Linked DNA regions of Homo sapiens: region 2 is linked to region 1. The links come from fine-mapping of genetic effects on gene expression. A gene starts in region 1. The other region holds a variant in brackets. All regions are shown on one strand. Distances are from middle to middle.

Region 1 (9,775 bases):
AGCACCCAAGGCATTTAAAAAAGTCCACTTTCCCCAAACCACAGTCTCCCACTGACCTAAACAATAAATCTTTGCCCAGCACTGGGTCAGGCATGTGGGCAGAATTAGGGGAAGAAGTCAGTGAAGCAGAAAGCCCAGTTCTTGACCTCAAGGACATGACTTCTGTCTTGTTAGCACAGCACAAAAGAGTGGTTAGGAATTGGCAAATGATATGGGTGCTGCAGGAATTCAGAAGGAAGAGTAATCACAACTGGGGTTGCTGGGAAAGAGCCTTTCCTGTCCCTTTCTGCTGTTCTCTCCATCCTGCCCCATCACCACACATTTTGGGAGGGTGTCTTTAGAAGCTGACCTGATAATGTGGGATGTTGTATTCTTCAGATGAATACCTGACAAAGCAGTGGAAGTATCCAATTGAGCTTCATGGGATTGGTAAATATGGCAACGACTCTTACCGAATTTTTTGTGTCAATGAGTGGAAGCAGGTGAGGCTCACTCCCATCCATAATTCAGCACATTTGGTCTCTGAGGCAAAATAAGTCCACCATTATGGTTAAGACTATTTATTGGATACAAATGCTATTACAGTCACAAACAATTGTGTTCCTGGCTGCGGGGAAGCGGGTGGCATGTGGGTTTTGGGGTTTTTGATCAGTAGGCGCTCCCAAGTCCACAAAGACCAGTCCAGCGGCGTGGCCTCTGACTCATCTCCAGTGGTTTGTCACCTCTGGCCCTGTTCCTGTCATTCCCTATTTGTGTGCTATCTCTAAGCCTGACGTGGTTTTCCTCCTGTCAAAAGTACACCACTACAGGAAAGCAGGAAGGTTTGGGCCTGCAATGTATGCATATTGGGTTTCTCTTAGTGGTCTCAGACTACGTTTGTGGTGACTGGGTCCTGCTTCAGCCCTGTTGAATATGCCCAGCCTGTGGCATGCTGGTGGTCATCCTGGCAGCTGGTGGGTGGCCTGGTATGCTGCCCACTCAGCTTGAGACTCACCCTCATGCATTCAGCCAGTAGGTCTGGCCAAGCCTGAACTGAAGGACCATGGTCCTATCCCAGCTTCATCAGAGCAATCCATTGTGACCTGAGAATCCATTTAACCTCTCGGTCTAGAACCTCCTTCTGGAAAGTGAGGTATTAATACTTGACTCATGTTATCGCCACCCCACATTCTAAGTCATGGTTGAGTAGTAATTTGGACAGTACCTTGTAAATTGTGTGAGATTACCTTAATATAAGGTATAACTTAAAATATTCATGAATCCCAGGAGGTTAAAGGTTATAACTTTTAGGTATGGTATCGTAATGTACTGTCCCCCAGCAAACATTTAAAAAGCCAATTTTAAAAAATGTATTTCTGACTAAGTTACATTAAGGTCTCTGCCTCTGTATCTTATGTTTCTTCCAGGTGCACCCTGAAGACCACAAATTAAATAAATATCATGACTGGCTTTGGGAAAATCATGAAAAATTAAGTCTATCTTAAACTCTGCAGCTTTCAAGCTCATCTGTTATGCATAGCTTTGCACTTCAAAAAAGCTTAATTAAGTACAACCAACCACCTTTCCAGCCATAGAGATTTTAATTAGCCCAACTAGAAGCCTAGTGTGTGTGCTTTCTTAATGTGTGTGCCAATGGTGGATCTTTGCTACTGAATGTGTTTGAACATGTTTTGAGATTTTTTTAAAATAAATTATTATTTGACAACAATCCAAAAAAAATACGGCTTTTCCAATGATGAAATATAATCAGAAGATGAAAAATAGTTCTAAACTATCAATAATACAAAGCAAATTTCTATCAGCCTTGCTAAAGCTAGGGGCCCACTAAATATTTTTATCGGCTAGGCGTGGTGGTGCATGCCTGTAATCTCGGAAGGCTGAGGCAGGAGGATCATTTGAGCTCATGAGGGCCCAGGAGGTCAAGGCTTCAGTGAGCCATGATCATGCCACTGCACTCCAGTCTGGATGACAGAGAGAGACCCTGTCTCAAAAAATATATATTTAAAAAATAAAAATAAAAGCTGACCCCAAAGACAAATAAGATTCCTCTGGCATTGTGTATTGTTGACAGCTCCACACTAGCTCTTAGGAATTGTAGATTCCACCCCAGTATCCATTTGATAACCTAATGTGAATATGGGCCTGCTGCTCCATTTCAGCTCACTCACTCTTTTACCTTGGTCCCTTTGTGAAAACTCATTTCTCATCTTCCATTTGGAGTTTATACCATTTGGCCAGGCACAGTGGCTTACACCTGTAATCCTAGCACTTTGGGAGGCTGAGGCAGGAGGATTGCTTGAGCCCAGGAGTTCAAAACCAGACTGGGCAACATAATGAGACCCCGTCTCTACAAAAAATTTTAAAAATTAATTGGGCATGGTGACATACACTTGTGGTCCCAGCTACTCAGAAGGCTGAGGTGGGAGAATCCCTTGAGCCCAGGAGATTGAGGCTGCAGTGAGCTATGATCACACCACTGCACTTCAGCCTGGATGACACAGCAAGACCCTGTCTTAAAAAAAATAAGTCTTAATGCCATTTTTATTACAAGTATTGTTACAGTTCAAATACCAAAGCATTTACTATTAGAAAGAAACCAAGGGAAAAAACTAGTTACTATGTCTTAATTACCAACTACCATTTTAAGGTATAATTTGAAAATTAAATTGATTGAATAAATGAAAAATAAATCAGTTGTTCAGGAAACTGCCTTTGTTGTAGGGCAGTGTGAACCGAATCAGGCTGCAGTGTGATGCAGAGGTAGTTGGTTGTTTCCACTTTAGTGAGTGTCAGTTTTTAGAAGGATAGATTTTGACCAGAGAACAGGAAAACTGGCCACACCTCCCTCTCCCCAAGGCAAACCCACTTTATAGTTTACCATCACATTTTCATTTAACAAACATCCAAGTAGCATTCACAAAGTGTAAAGCCCTGTGGTGGGGAGGGGCACAAAGATAAACAAGTTCTGTACAGACCCTCACAGAGAGAAAGAAGGGCACCTAATAATGGAAGGGAACAAAAGCGGTAAGGAGTAGGGACAAGACACCCAAAGAGGGTGGAGAGGGGCCTCTGAAACCTTGGGCCCAGCTGGGCCTGGAGGGTGGGGCGAGCTCACCAAGCTCAGGGCATCAGGTGTGGCTTTGTGGTAGGGCTGGTGGTCACATACCTTCCCCCAGCATCTCCATGGGGAGTGTGGGCCCGTGTGAATGCAGGAGGCGAGCTCTGCACCAGGGGAGCTCAGGACACAGCCAGGTTGCTCAGGCTCTAGGCCTGGCTTTTCCTGTTTCTTGCAGGTGAGGTTGCCTGACCTCTGTACCTGTTAACTTGTCTTTTAAAAATGGGATAGTGGTGTCTACCTCACACAATGATGGTAATTATGAAGTTCAGACATGTAGTGCTAAAATGGTACCTGGCTTGCAAGAGTGCTGTGTGAATGTGGCCCATGGCAACAATCTGTTTGCAAGCGTCACAAAGATAGCTTGTCTCAGCAAAGGAATAAGGGCTTAGGTGTTTCTCTTTAACTTTTTAAAAATTGAGCTAAAAGCCACCATTTAACCATTTTAAAGTGTACAGTTCAGTGGTTTAGTACATTTACAGTGTGCAGCCATCATCACTAATTCCAGAAGTTTCCATTTCTTTTTTCCACTCCAAAAAGAATCTCTCCACCTGTTAGCAGTCACTTCAATTACTCACCCCATCCCCTAGCAACCATTCATCTACTTTCCGTGTCTGTGGGTTCGTCTATGCTGAACATTTCACATAAATGGAATCATACAGCACGTGGCCTTTTGTGTCTAGCTTCTTGCTTAGCATACTGTTTTGAAGGTTTATCCATATTGTAGCATGTACTTCATTCCTTCTTATGGCCATCCTATGGATATACCTCATTTTGCTTATCAGTTGATGCACATTTCAAGGGTTTATTATTATTCTCTGGTCCTCAGGTTCTGTAACTCCAAACCATGGCACCCTGCCATAAGCGGGGCAGAACATACCCAACACCTCTATCTGGCCACAGCTCACTTTGGTTCTTCCTAACCCTCTGGAGGAGGCAGGGCCTATTTTTCCTATGAGAAAACTGAGGCCTAGAGATATGGAGACCTGCGGAAGATCCCACATTTCACGGGAAAACCGGAGACTTTCTACACTGGATTCAGGGACTACTGGGCCGAACAAAGAAATCCCGCCTTTCACCAAGCCCAGAACTGGGCGGGGCGTGGATTTGCTCGCTGCCCCTCCCAGAATTGGACGAAAACGAGGTGGGGCCAGCAGGCGCTCGGCAGGGCGGGCTCGCTCTTAACACGTGACAGCGCTCAGCCAATTGGCGCGGGGCGTCCGTAGCCACGGCAACAGGTTGCTTCTGCAGTCTGAGCTGAGCGCCTTTCGCACGACTTGGAGTTACGGTTTATCTGATACCCCGGTACCCCTACGCAAGCAAGCCCACATCGACACACATTCACACACGCCCTTCAGCACCCCCTCCCAGCACCACGACCATGGACGACGACTATGAAGCGTACCACAGTCTGTTCTTGTCGCTGCTCGGTAAGCCCCGGGAAGAAGCGTCTGCAGGGAGCGCTCAGCGCCCTAAGGACGCGTGAAAGTGGGGTGAGGGCAAAAACTCAGCCACAGATATTGTGCCGACCCCCTCTGGGTGAAGGGTTGCCATGGAGTCGGGGGCAGGTCATGTACATTTCTGAGATTTCTATCTGAGCCTAGTTGGAGGAACCAGAGGCCCGACCCATGTGACGGGAGCCCTCCAGCTCGCCCTGTTTCTCTGCAGGACATTAATGTATTCAGTACTGGAGGAGAGGCATGGAGAAGACGTCAGTCTTCAAGGTTTTGGCAGTAATGTGCTGGGGACCAAGTTCTTGGCAAAGCAATGCAGCTTCACGGGTAAAGGACAGAGATAAATGGATAATTACAGAATAAGAAGGGGTAAATGCCGGGCCCAGGGATGACACCCAGGAGTAAAAGGTGTGCTGAGGGTATGGGATGGGGAGGAACAGTTCCAAGCTTTTGGAAAAGATCTTTACACTGGAGCTTAAAGGATAAAAAGGAGTTCTCCAAGCCAAAAGGGGAAGGAAAAGCATTTCGGGCAAGGAAACAGCATGACCCAAGAGGTCTGGTGTCTCTGGAAATGAGGTGAGAGAGGTCAGAAGGGACAAGATCATAAAAGATACTGCAAGCCAGGAGATGGAGAGGCCACTGGGAGTGGCAGGACTGGATTGGGAGCAGTCAGAAAAGACCTGAGACTGAGTTGGCAGACTCAGAATGTTGGTGTGGGGAGATGAGAGCTGGGGGCTATAAAGCTTGAAGACTGAAGGTCTTCTCCATGCCGCTTCTCCAGCACTGAACACATTAATGCCCAGTGGAGAAACAGGGAGAGCTGGAGAGGCTGGCCACCTTTCCCAGGCACACAGGTCAGGGCTCTGGTCAAATGCCCAAGCTAAAGATGCTGGGAGGTGAGGGAGAAGGCCCAGGCTAGAGGGAACTACGGGACTTGGGGGCTGGTTGGTCAGGAAACACAGAAGAGGCAAATAAAGATGGTTCTCAAGTTGGCAGCTGGGGGACCTGGTAGATGGAGATGTCTTCCACAGAGATAAGAGAACGTACTCAGAGGACCCAGTTAGTGGGGGAAGGGGCACAAAGACAAATCCAGTCTTGGTTGGTTGAGTTTAAGATCCTTGTCAGTAGCTGGGCACAGTATCTCACGCCTGTAATCCCAGCACTATGGGAAGCTGAGGCAGGAGGATTGCTTGAGCCCAGGAGTTTGAGAATAGCCTGGGCAACATAGTGAGATCCCATCTCTACAAAATTGTTTTTTAAAGTTAGCCAGGCCTGGTGGGGTGGCTCACGCCTGTAATCCCAGCACTTTAGGAGGCTGAGGTGGGTGGATCACGAGGTCAGGAGATCAAGACCATCCTGGCTAACACAATGAAACCCCGTCTCTACTAAAAATACAAAAAATTAGCCGGGCATGGTGGCAGGCGCCTGTAGTCACAGCTACTCAGGAGGCTGAGGCAGGAGAATGGCATGAACCAGGGAGGTGGAGCTTGCAGTGAGCCAAGATCATGCCATTGCACTCCAGCCTGGGTGACAGAGCAAGACACCATCTCAAAAAAAAAAAAAAAAAAAAGGTTAGCTAGGCTTAATGGCATGCACCTGTAGTCCCAGCTACTCAGGAGGCTGAGCTGGGAGGATCATTTGAGCCCAGGAGTTCAAGGCTGCAGTGAGCTATGATTGAGCCACTGTACTCCAGCTTGGGGAACAGAGCAAGACCCTGTCTCAATTAAAAATAAATAATAAAAAAAGATCCCCGGCCGGGCGCCGTGGCTCACGCCTGTAATCCTAGCACTTTGGGAGGCTGAGGTGGGCGGATCACCAGGTCAGGAGATCGAGACCATCCTGGCTAACACAGTGAAACCCCATCTCTACTAAAAATACAAAAAATTAGCCGGTCGTGGTGGCAGACACCTGTAGTCCCAGGTACTCGGGAGGCTGAGGCAGGAGAATGGCGTGAACCCGGGAGGCAGAGCTTGCAGAGAGCCGAGATCGTGCCACTGCACTTTAGCCTGGGAAACAGAGCAAGAGTCCGTCTCAAAAAAAAAAAAAAAAAAAAAAACAAAAAAAAACCCTGTAAGCCATCCAAGTGGAGATGTTTTAGGAACAACTGGAGGTATAAACTTGGAGCTAATTCCAAGTCAAAAATATTGGTATGGATGTCCCCAGCATACAGAAGGTCATAGAAACATGAGAATGGAAGGGATTATTTAAAAAGAGAAGAGACCCTGGGTATAAGCCTGGAAGCAACAACCTTTAAGGAGTAATCAGGAAAAGAGGGGCCCAAAAACAATAGCCGGAGAGGTAGAATTGGACATAGCAAGAGATTGAATCAAGCCAAGAGCAGGGAGAATTTCAAGAAAGAGTAGAATTGTTTCCAGACACCTATAGGCTGTCTGAGAAAAGAGAGAACAAGTGTGTTTTCTGGGACATCCATGGGGAGGACTAGAACCAAAGGGTAGAAAGTCCAGGGAAACAAATTCTGGGTCAATATAAGGAAATATTTTCTAGCAGTCAGAGTTTAGTGTCCACCATGTTAAGTAGAAAGTTCCACGTCACAGGAGATGTATAAACAGAGGCAAAGTCTGCCAGTGGCATTGAGGAGAGTGTCCCTGACCTGGGCAGGTGATTGAACTAGCTGGCGTCTGAGAGCTTTCCTTGCCAATTTCCTAGGAACATTGTCACATAGTCTCTACCCATAACTACACAATGACAGCCTCTTTTATTATAAGAGCCCATTTCCCTTTCTGTCAATGGACACAGGACTCCAAAGAGCACTAGAATGAAGCTCCCTGAGGAGGTTTGGTGGGCAGGCACCCTTGGAAAGTGGGGTCAGGGGCTGGTGCAGGTTTAGAACTGTGAGGAGAATGACTCGGCCAGGGGAAGCCCTGGGGAATGCAGTGCTCTTCAGAGGGCACAGCAAATGCAAAAACTGAAAACCCAGAGCCAGGAAGGAACAAGGCACCTCAGACAACAGAAAGGAGGACAGCAGCTGGGACCACATGAGTGAGGGGGCGGGGGCTGGGAGGTGACAAGGGAAGAGTGGGGAGCAGGGCCAGTGAAGGCAGCTTTGTAGGCCACAGAAGGAGGCGGGTATTTATTCAAAGAGCACTAAGAATCCATTGAATGGTTTCAAATGGGGAAGGGACAGACTGTGAATTTACATTTGTAAGGCTCTCCTGGCTGAGGGCAGAACATGGATTGGGGGTCTAGGGAGGACCCAAATGGGAGCAGCAAGACCTGTGGGGAGCAGGTTTTGTGTTCCCGTGGCCTGCAGGGTAAAGTTTCAATCTCTTAGCCTGGCATTTGAGATGACGCCAACCTTATTTCCCACTAACCTCCTCCTTTACACACAGTGGGCTTCCAACATGTGGAACTGTCTGGTGACCCTAAAATCCCCAAATCCCACTCCTGACCTTTCCCCATCCCTGCCCCTCCACCCCATGAAGCCAGACCATTCTTGAAGGTCCACATCAAAGACACCTCTTCCTTGATGCCCTCCCAGGTCCCACAGTCAGCATTTCTCCCCCAACTGAGAACATCTTGTTACCCTCTGGGTGCCCCACCTTGTTCCATTGGGTGGACTGAGAACAGGTGAACCACGGTAGGTGCCCAGCCTAGTTTAATCTGCACCTGGTTCAGCACCAAGCCCTGGGGGATTCTCAATAAATACTGATTTGATGAATGACTACATTCTCAGTCATCCCCTGCTGGGAATGAACTTTCTTGTGGTCAAAGTAATGATACATGTGTTGTTTAGAAGTGTTCGCTTCCATCCCTATTGATGTGTAATATCTGTTCTAGCATTGCTATAAAGAACTACCTGAGACTAGGTAATTTATAAAGAGATGAGGTTTAATTGACTCACAGTTCCTCAGGCTGTACAGGAAACATGGCTGGGGAGGCCTCAGGAAACTTACAATCATGGCAGAAGGCAAAGACAGGCACATCTTACATAACCCAAGAAGGAGGAAGTGAGAGCAGGGGGAGGTGCTATGCTTTTGAACAACCAGATCTTGTGAGCACTCGCTCTCATGAGAACAGCAAGGGGGACGTCCTCTCCCATGATCCAATCACCTCCCACTAGACCCCTCCTCCAACAATGGGGATTATAATTTAACATGAGATTTGGGCAAGGACACAGATGCAAACCATACCATGATGTTTACTTTTCTTATTTGCTGACTCTGAAAGGAACACATGGGCCTTGTAAAGAGACTTAACAAATGTACTGAATGTCCACTTTGGGCCAGGCTGGGCACCGAGGACACAGGGGAACTAAGACACAGTCCTGGTCACTGGGAAACTCACAGGCTGTTGGGAAAGAAAGATGCAGAAAGTATCTTCATTTCAGAAAAATATGGTAAATGCTTATGATGGGACTAAGTGTGGGGGCTATGGGACCCAGAGGGCCCATGAGAAGGGGAGTGGGAGGGCTTCAAGGGGCCGGGATGCCTGAGCTGAGTCTCAAAGGGTGAGTCAGGGATCAAGAAGTGAAGCAGGGAGGGAGAAGAGCATGTCACAGGGAGGAAACAGCATGGCTTGTGTGTGTTGGTGGGGCAGATCTGTTTGGATACAAACGTAAGGGAAGGCAGAAGGAGCCAGAGAAATCGGAGAGGCTGGTAGGGGTGAGAGGACCAGGTGGGGCCAGGTTAAGGAGCTTGAACTTTACTCTAGAGGCAGTTAGGAGCCATGGACAGGTTTTAAGCAAGGGAGTTTGGGTTTTAGGAGGAAAATGACAGTGACAGTATTTCCAATAAGATTGTTATATCCCTTCTGATTTTTTTAAATTTTTTTGAAAAAGGGTCTCTGTTGCCCAGGCTGGATTACAATGCGGGTAATCTCAGCTCACTGTAGCCTTGACCTCCCAGGCTCAAGTGATCCTCCCACCTCAGCCTCCTGAGGAGCTGCGACTACAGGCGTGCACCACCATGCCCGGCTAGTTTTTAAATTTTTTTGTATAGATGAGGTCTCACTATTTTGCCCAGGCTGGCCTTGAACTCCTGGGCTCAAGCAATCCTCCCACCTCAGCCTCCCAAAGTGCTTGGATTACAGGCATAAGCTACCATGCCTGGCCCCTTCTGATTTTTTAGAACACTTCCAAACTGTTATCTCATTTGATCTTCATAACAACTTCAAGAGGTAGATAGAGCAGAGTTTATATCATTTCAGAAGTAAAATACTTGAGACTCAGCAGGATTGGGTGACAGCC
Region 2 (9,775 bases), 35 kb after region 1:
CAGGAGCTCTGGGAATATAAAGATGAAACTTCCCCCTTGCCTTCAAGGATATCATGGGCCAGAAGGCAAAGTTGTTTTGAATACGTGGTTCATTGAGTACCCACTCTGTGCCAACTGATGGCTGCAAAGAGAACAGAAGGGGTGCTGCTGTAGGAAATAAATGAATGGCTCAGAAGACCACACTGAGGAAGTTGTGAGTTGATAATGGAAGATCTCCAGGTTTGAGGCATCCTTAGAGGGATATGATGGTTTTGTGTGTGTTGGGGGTGTGGTAGCGCAGCTGCTACCTAGGGAATTAGAAGGTTTTCTTTATTGAACATTTACCCTGTGACAGGTACTGCAGGCATTCAGCACACAATGTCGTCTCCATTTTACAGGTGAGGAAACTGAGACTCCAGTTCAAGTAGATGGTCAAGGCCAGTACTACCGGAAGGACCATCTGGGGGTTCAGACACTGGCAGGGTGGGATTTGCTGCCCCTTGCAAATTGAGAGTGTCTTGGGGTCAGTTTTGATTTGCTCAGCTGTTGGCATTCTTTGGGCTCTGAGTGGGTGAGGTGACCCTTGACCTCCTGGGATCGCATCTGGAGACTGCCTAGTATTCTGCCAGCTTCGGAAAGGGAGGGAAAGCAAGCCTGGCAGAGGCACCCATTCCATTCCCAGCTTGCTCCGTAGCTGGTGATTGGAAGACACTCTGCGACAGTGTTCAGTCCCTGGGCGGGAAAGCCTCCTTCCAGGATTCTTCCTCACCTGGGGCTACTTCTTCCCCAAAAGGCATCATGGCTGCCCTCAGATCCCTTGTGAAGCCCAAGATCGTCAAAAAGAGAACCAAGAAATTCATCCGGCACCAGTCAGACCGATATGTCAAAATCAAGGTGTGTGGTCCTGGGATGGAAATGGGTGTGGGGTGAAGAAAGGAGTTTCCAACAGGCTGCCAGTTCTGACATCACCTAGTCAGGATTACCTTTGACCGATGAACTGGTTTGTGGAAGAGCTTTCTGTGGAAATACAGGTCTCCCCCAGTGTGCCCTAGTGCTGGTACTTACGTCTCTTGATGTGTGAAGTGAAACTTTAATGAAAAGGGACACTTGGCCATTTTGATATGTTTGGAGGGCTTTGCATTTGTATCATGTATTTTGGGTTGCCTTATGACAGCAGGATCCCTATTTTATAGACAAGAAAACTCAGAGGTGCTGAGAGCAGTGTCTGCACCTGTGCTCGCCATCTCAATATCTACACAGTCCCCTCGCATCCCATTGGTGTCTCCATTTCTTGGGAGTGAGAATGGCGGGGGTGCCTGCCTTCCTAGTGGCAAAAGCCACGAGCTCCTGGTTTTTCCCACCAAAAAAGCATGTAAGGAAATAGTGAAGTCCTATTACCAAAGGCAACTACTGTGTGGCATACTTCCTTTTCATTTGGTCCTTTTTTCCCTCCCCTATGGAACAGTTGGCAGTCTGCACAGATGCTAACCCACCTGTGTATTATTTCCTTCAGCGTAACTGGTGGAAACCCAGAGGCATTGACAACAGGGTTCATAGAAGGTTCAAGGGCCAGGTCTTGATATGATGCCCAGCATTGGTTATAGGAGCAAAAAAAAAAAAAAAAAAAAAAAACCAGAAAGCACGTGCTGCCCAGTGGCTTCCGGAAGTTCCTGGTCCACAATGTCAAGGAGCTGAGAGTGCTGCTGATATGCAACAAGTGAGTTGGGTCCATCTCTGGTTTCAGGGGTCTGAAGTTTGCATCTGTGCGGGCACTTCTGGCAGGAACTCTGGAAACTCTTGGGATGCATTTTGGGAAGCTGACATTCTCTGAGGGAATGTGAAGTCATTCCTTACAGGAGTTTAGAGAATGCTTGTTTGGGGCCAGGTGTGGTGGCTCATGCCTGTAATCCCAGCACTTTGGGAGGCCGAGGTGGGCAGATCACCTGAGGTCAGGAGTTCGAGACCAGCCTGGCCAACTTGACGAAACCCCATCTCTACTAAAAAGACAAAATTAGCTGGGCGTGGTGGTACACGCCTGTAATCTCAGCTACTCAGGAGGCTGAGGTGGGAGAACCAGCAGGAGAGGTTGCAGTGAGCTACGATCGCGCCACTGCACTCCAGCCTAGGGCGACAGTGAAACTCCATCCCAAAAGGAAAAAGAGAATGCTTCTTGGGGAGTTCAGTGTGTTTCCTTTGTTGGAGAGGGGAGAGACTTTTGTCCTCATAGCTGTGGAGTCCCAAGACCAGAAAAATGGACTTTGCTTGACACAGTGAACACAGCAGTAATCACCGGTTTTCAATATAATATCTTTTGGCTGTTGTTTCCAGAATGTTGCTTTATTTATGAGGGAATTTGGGGAAGATCAAACATAGGCCTCAGACTTTAAGAGGCCCTTTATGCTTTGGTAAGGGGTATTTTCAGGGGTACGGAGGCTTTACAACCAAATGTGAACTAGAGGGAGAATAAGAGGAAGACTTTGTGGACAGAGAGTACTTTACACAAAGGTGGAGAGTGCAAGGAGGGGTCACAGGACATTAGTGCTAGGTAGTGTTTACGGTTTGTTTTTAGAGACGTTTCTACTCTGTTGCCCAGGCTAGAATGCAGTGGCCATTAACAGCTATGATGATGGCCTGCTGCACCCTTGAACTCCTGGGCTCAAGTGATCCTCCTGCTTCGCCCTCCCAAGGTGCTGGGATTACAGACATGAGCCACCATGCCTGCACAAGAACAGCAGGTTTAAAAAACTAGGCAAGCTCACGCCTGTAATCCCAGCACTTTTGGGAGGGCGAGGTGGGCGGATCACAAGGTCAGGAGATCGAGACCATCCTGGCTGACACGGTGAAACCCCGTCTCTACTAAAAATACAAAAAAAAAAAAAATAGGCAAGCAGAGGCAGCAGGGGCAGTCTGTGTGGGGTACAGGGGCAGTCTCTGTGTGTGCGCAAGGGTAGTCTCTGTGTGTGTGTGTGCAAGGGCAGTCTCTGTGTATGTGTGTGAGTGTGTGTGTGTGCAAGAGCAGTCTGTGTGGGTGCAGGGGCCGTCGGTGTGTGTGTGTGCAGGGGCTGTCTCTGTGTGTGTATGTGTGTGTATGTGTGTGCAGGGGCAGTCTGTGTGTGTGCAGGGGCTAGCTCTGTGTGTGTGTGTGCAGGGGCTAGCTCTGTGTGTGTGCAGGGGTAGTCTGTGTGTGTGTGCAGGGGCCGTCTCTGTGTGTGTGTGTGTGTGTGTGTGTGTGTGTGTGTGTGCAGGGGCAGTCTGTGTGTAGGGGCCATCTGTGTATGTGTGTGTGCAGGGGCAGTGTGTGTGTGTGTGCAGGGGCAGTCTCTGTGTGTGTGTGTATGTGCAGGGGCAATCTCTGTGTGTGTGTGTGTGTGTGTGTGCAGGGGCAGTCTCTGTGTGTGTGTGGCCTCTGCTCAGCTCCTGGGAAGGGGCTTCTGATCCTCTGTCAACATCAAAGGAGCTGGGCCTTGAAAACCTATCTCAGCCTCCTGGTCTGAATGCAAAGCCATCGGACTCTCTTCCTGGGGCATTTGGTTATGTAAAGCCCTGCGCCAGGTTCCCAGAGTGGGTGCTTCAGCTTTGGGCAGCAGTGGGTCCTATCTCTGGGAACACCGACAGTGACTCCTTGTGTCAGGTAGGTGGGTGTCAGAGTGTCCTCATTTCATAAACAGGGACATTCAGAGGCCTTTGGCCCTTGCCCAATGTCCTGAGGCCAGAGAGCAGTGGAGTGAGCCTAGCCGTCCACAGGCTGTCCCACCCACATGCTCAGGATGCAGGGACTCACCGTAGGAAGAGGCGGAGAAGATGAAGGGCTGGCGGCAGTTGATGCAGACGTTGCCCAGGTTGTTGAGCAGCGGGTTGTTGGTGGAGCAGCGGTAGCACAAGGGCACCAACTCCTACAAAACAGCCACGGACTCCCGAGGGGCCGGGGCAGGCACGTGTCCTCCTCCCCCTGGACTCTGGCTTCGGGCCCCTGGGGCCTGGCTGCCAAGAGGAAAGGCCACCCGGGTGGGCAGGCAGGGAAGGGGTGCCAGGCCCAGGAGCTCCATGCCATGGGGAAGCAGGATAAAGGCCTGCCGAAATACCCAAGCCCTGTCACTTGGGTCCCTAAGAGGTGGGCATGATTATTTCCATCTTGCAGATGAGAAGAATAATGTCTGGGGTGAAGGTGAAGCACCCAGCCCAAGACTCAGCAGCCAGGAAGTGGCCCAGCGCTCTTTATACCACGGGTGCAGGAATTCACACAGAAAAGTGGAGGCCAAGGCGTGAGAATTCCTCAATGACTGCCCTCTAAAGGAAGAGGTGAGTGTGGGGCCTGCTCTGAGTGCTAAACACAGGCAGTCTCTGTGTCTCCCAAGGAACCCAATCGCTATCACATTTGCTTTAAATATTTAGAGACGCACGATTTGTTTCCTTGTCAGTCAAAGCCAAGAGGTGGCATGTGATGACATGCTGCCAAATGCTCAGGGCACAGACGGAAACTTTCATGTCAACCCTGACATAGTCACCACAGATCTCAATGGCCTTGACGTGCTCTCCTGCTGAGATTTACATCCCCACGGTGACTTTGGGCTCTTTCATATTTCTGGCCCAGTCAGCCTGTTTGGTGATTA[G/A]CATCTTTGTTTCTTTGGGGTCTCCAGATCCAAAGAAATCCTGAGGAAGCACAACAAACAAAAACACTCTGGATCAGAACTTCCTGTGCCAGCGTTACATCAGGGTTTTCTAGCAGCAAGGGCGGGCTCCACATGGCTGAAGCAGGCAACCAGGAGGTAGGCAGGGCCCGGCCCTGAGGGGCTGAGTTGGGGGAGTCCCAGGTCTCGGGAAGAGTGATCTCAGGCTGCCCTGCAGGTGTTCCTGGGGGATCCTGGGACAGCATCAGGGACGCTGGCCCCCAGTGCTTCCTTCCCATCTCACAAATGGGCATTTGTTCATCGGCTAAACAACACTTTCTAGACTATTTGGGGCACTGCACATGAAGTCTGCAGGGTCGGGGGTTCATGATCAGGCTGTCTCTCTCTCACATAGTTTGGTAAATACAGGACTGTTCCTAAACAGCAATGAGACAACCTGGTGCACAGTTCCACATATCGAGACCTGTCATCTTATTCAGATCATATGGGTGATACCACATGCTTCAGAGTGAGGCTGAGCATGGGTTCCCCTAAACTTACACAGACAAAATGACTTACAGTGTTTGCCGGCCCTCCGTGCCCTCCATGCCCTCTCTGAGTCACCAGCAAACATTCTGTGCCCTGAACTAGAGAATCATCACATTGTCTTTGCCCCAGTTACTTTCCTGGAACAGATAACAAGCAAACCTCTCTCTGGTTAGTTGCTTCTCGGCTGAATGGTTAGGGATCCTGTGCTGAGGTCAGGTCTGCAGGGGTGAGAACCTGATCCGACAGTGGGACAGCAGGAGGCCATGGGGGGATCTGAGGCAGGGAAGGTGCTCAGGAGAGGACCTGAGAAGGAAGAGATGGCTGTGGTCCTGGAGGCTCAGGGATCAGGCCTAGGGCCTGTGTTCCTTCGGCCTCAGCATACCTCTGAAGCGGTATGCCCAGCTTCTCTGGGCAGGCCCTACAATGTGTGAGAAACAGCCTCAGAACACCACCTCTTTTCAGGGTAGTTACCCAAAATACACACGTGGGAGTTTGCCAGAGTTGAGGCAGCTTTTAAAGGTGGAGCTTTTCAAAAAGGGAAACTGGGAGCACTTACAGCCCAGGTCTATGTTACTGGTAAGAAGTGGTTTGTCTCAGGAATAATGTACCCTGTGGAGAGTACTTTGTGTCAGCCTCACTGAGAACAAAAAAAGCACTCCTTTCCCCATGATTAACACTCATGTGTCAGGAAAGTACAGTCAATGTATGCTAAAAATCCACTTGAACAATTAGCTCGCTTTTTTCCCTCATTTGCTTTCAGAGTAAATGTGCTTTCAGAGTATTAGGTCGGCCTAATATATGATACATTTTAAGAAGGGGAGGAAAGCGCATTGTATACCCTGATGCTGGGACCCAATAGAAGACAGGCCCCCTGGCTGGCCTTTGGTTCTCCCTGGAGCTGACAAAGGGAAGGGGCTTGGAAAGCAGCCACTGTCCCCGCCTAGTTTGGGCCTTTACAGACACACCTTTCCTTTTGGCAGCTGCTATGGCACGGATTCTCTATGCCAGCACGAAGCTGGAAAACCTGCCTACCTGGCTGGTGAAATGAGGGTGGCAGCTGGAGGAAACAGGCATCTTAGGAGACTAGAAATGTCCTTCAAAGGGACTTCAGTGAGTGCTCAGGGGACCAGGGGTGACTGTGTTAAGAAGGGTTAGAGGTTGAGAGGGAGCCATGAGCTTGGGTCATCACCCCAGTGAGACCATCCAGGCACACAGCTCCCAGGCTTGGGAGGCCGCCTCCAGTCCACCAGGACCCTCAGGGAGCTGTGACTTCATTGAAGCTGGGTCTAAAGGCTTCCTTCAAGGCTCAGCAAACTGGGTTTTCAAAGATTTTTGATCCCTGAAGCTAATTTACACGTTATGTGGGGCCATGGCAAAGACTTGGCCCTGAAGTGGACAGAAAGAGGCTGTGCTGAGTGATGAATGAGACTAAACAGTGTTCTCATGCTTGGTGATTTTGATGAGAACATACTACATAAGAGTTAAGAGCATTATAATTCCCTTTATCACCATATAAACATGTCACTTATCCGGAAAGCATACAATTTATTTGTACATGAGAATGTAAATTTAAAAATTTTCTGAAAACTAGATTAAATCTTGAGAAGCAATTTTCAAGTAAACAAAAACATGCCATGTTAATCAGCACTAGATCTCCCCCACCCCCCACATAATGTGTATGTACACATTTCTCAAATTCAGACTGCAGTACAGCTGTCTCCTTGGAGGCGTCAGGGGTTCCTAAGCCTAAATTCTACCTCTAGGGTCTTGATCCCTCAAGAGTTCATCCTGAGTTAAAATTTTGTTATCCCCGGAAGCAGAGATGCACTGACTCTGGTGATCTCAGTATGAATGTGGTATGAAATCTTCTAGGTGTCTGTGGTGGGGCCTGAGGGAGGGTAGGAAAGGTGACGAGGAAAAAGTAGAGGGAGCCTGAACACCCTGGGTCTCAGGTACGGAGTGAAGAAATCACTAAGGTGAAAAGACAGGCTGGGGCCCAGGAGCTCGTCCAAGTCCTGATGAACAACAAGTCCTGGGCAACATCACAGGCCACCAAACACACCTTCAGCTCCAGGGTCGAATAGATGGTGGAAGAGCACAGCCATCTGGAAAATCAGAAAAAAGTGGGGAAGATTTTCTATCTTGAACTTGTGAGCTGGAGAATTACCATTAGTAGCCCACTAATAGGTTATGGCCGATGAGTCCCTTCATAACACACTGAGAGCCACTTTTGACACTCCCAGAAAAGGCAGGTTAACAAAACCCCTTGATGGAAGGAAGACCCTCATTGCCCAATGTACCCAAGCCTCTTTGAACCTTGCTTAGACTGAACTGCAAATGTCTTGACTGCTCTGGGCTCCTTAGTGCAACTCCTTCCCACAGAAGCCATCAGGAGCCTGGTCCAGGAAGCTCCTCTCCTACACCTGCCTTAAAAGGCCCAGCTCTGCTGGGGAGTAAGGTTCATGGGGGCCGTCCCAATGCAAAAGGGAATCTCTGCCATCACCCACTGCAACCACATGGTAGCCACTCTGCAGCCGGCAGGCGTGAGGCATGCTGCGCTAACATGGGAGGGCGGAGGCTCTGCCTGACTTCCCAGAAGCCCAGTGAGAAGTCCAGGACAATCAGCAGGTGCTATGGGAACCTTGGCTGGCAGGCACCATGTCGTCCTGTATGATCGGCAGGACCGGCTCCTTCCTGAAGACACCGATTCTTGGCGGCTCCTGACAAGGATTGAGAGGATTTGTGGGGGACAGCCCTGAAGCCCTGAGCCCTCAACTCAATGAAGGGATTGTGCTGGTGTAGACCCACAGCCATCCAGCTCTGTCACTGATGAAGGTCTGAACTGCCATACTCTGCCCCTTTGGTGTCAGCCTTAAAGGTCAGTTTTAGGTGAGTTTCAACCAGTGGCTGTAGATGGGTCCTTTGTTTACCAGTTTCCCCACATCCTGTCTGAGACCATTGCTAGTTTTTGTCTGCACCAGTCTTAGGGAAAACAACCTGGACACCGTGGGTGAGATCACCAGTGGGCTCCAAGCCAGAGCATGGGCCTGGGACAGGGTGGGTTACCTTGGCATACTCTAACATACTCAAACCTCATTTCTTTTGGGGTGATCAGACCCAACAGCAGGTCATGGGGGCGACGAAGTCCAGTGGAGTCCAAGGAATGAGAAAGACAGTTTGAGAGACAAAATGGGACCAGGGGGCTATCACAAGTGTGGAGGCTGCAACAAACAGGTGGTGAGGATGTGGGGGTTGAAAGGAAACGGTGTATCAAGTGAATGAGAAACATATGGCTACTTGAGAACATGGGAATGCTAGAAGCAAGGAGCAGCAAGTCTAGCAAACATGCAAGCCCTGCCTCAGCTTCTCTCCCAACACTCAGCTTTTCTTCCAACACATTTCATGTGCAAGGTTCTCGTGCCCACTCCTCTTGTACAGTTTGGCAGCCTCATGGAGCTTCCCTGGTAGGAAAACACATCTGCCAGAAACAGGTCATTGTTGGTCTCTCCCCGCTTCTTCCTCTCCTGGAAAAATTAGAAGCAAAGGAAATGGCCTCTGCAGCCATGGGCAGAAAGCAGCCTTTACAAAGGTTAGATGTGGCTATTTCAAGTGAGGCCCCTGGGCCTTCCTACTGGAACCTGGGCTTGGCTCCTGGCTGTTGTCTCTCTCCCCTAGGTTCCCGCTGGGAAGGCTTGATAACAAAAGCAGGCTTTTACCAGACAAGCAAAGATCAAAAAAAGATGCAAACCTTTGTTTGTTTAATGGAAATTCCTCAGGGTTGCTTTCCTGTGTATTCCAAAGCTATGACGGAATAGTTTGAATAGTGTGTGCTCTGACTCATCCATGACCCCTAAGCTCCCAAGATCTCCCAAATCCGCAGGCCCCGTTTGGCAGAGTTGTGGCTCATGGGGATGACAGAGCAGAATGTTTAGGGTTTCTGCCCAAGAGGGAGACCAATAAAATAGGATGACAAGTCTTACGATGTCCCTACTTCTAAAGAGAAGGTAAGAAATCCCGTGCTGAACATCCACTAGGTTCTGGGTATATACTTTATACACACATGGCCCCTTTATTCCTCTCAGTGACCCTCAGGGTAGGTCTCACTACCCAAGTGTTAGAGTGAAGGACGCTGAGACCAAGAAGAGGAACAGGTCAGGGTCAGACAGAGCTGGAATTTGGACACAGTTCTGTCTGACTCCAGATATTCCTTGTATCACACAATACTGTCTTCTGAAGCAAGTGATTGTCCCCAACACACACACACACACACACACACTCTCTCTCTCTCTCTCTCTCTCTCTCTCTCTCTCTCTCTCTCTCAGCAGAGCTGAGGATAAAGAGGAATATCCTGCACACTTCTTCCTTCTGTGTCAGGGAACATTTGCTTGTCTACAGCTCGAGTATTTGTAAACACTCAGTAGCACCCAAACCCTGAGCCCTAGCAGTTTCCTTTTGCTTGTTTACTAGCAAGAGTAGCATGTCGGAGGACGATGAGACATTGAATCAAACTCTTAGACAAGCTGGTGAAAGTTTTAACGACTGCTGGAGGCAACATGCTTCCACACTGACAGAAATCATCTTTCAAAAATCCTGCACATATCTCAGGCTTATGAAACAAACTAATTCCTAATAGTTGGAAA

What was found. PIP is the estimated chance that this variant, and not a neighbour inherited with it, causes the effect.
Region 2: its variant is fine-mapped to the expression of EFCAB12 in whole blood (TOPMed, PIP 0.96).

The regions. Positions count from the first base shown.
Region 1 is chr3:129,423,210-129,432,984 of GRCh38, reverse strand. It overlaps EFCAB12 (EF-hand calcium binding domain 12), which reads left to right and starts at 4,349. Exons shown (of 9, transcript NM_207307.3): 1 at 4,349-4,545. The coding sequence starts at 4,497. MBD4 (methyl-CpG binding domain 4, DNA glycosylase) reads left to right here. Exons shown (of 8, transcript NM_001276270.2): 7 at 379-482; 8 at 1,407-2,038. The coding sequence ends at 1,484. RefSeq lists a silencer at 4,163-4,212 and an enhancer at 8,395-8,444.
Region 2 is chr3:129,388,138-129,397,912 of GRCh38, reverse strand. SNORA7B (small nucleolar RNA, H/ACA box 7B) reads left to right here and starts at 565; the gene lies at 565-703. It also overlaps the pseudogene RPL32P3. RefSeq lists enhancers at 2,501-3,197, 8,300-9,499. The variant G/A (reference allele first, on the strand shown) is at 4,590.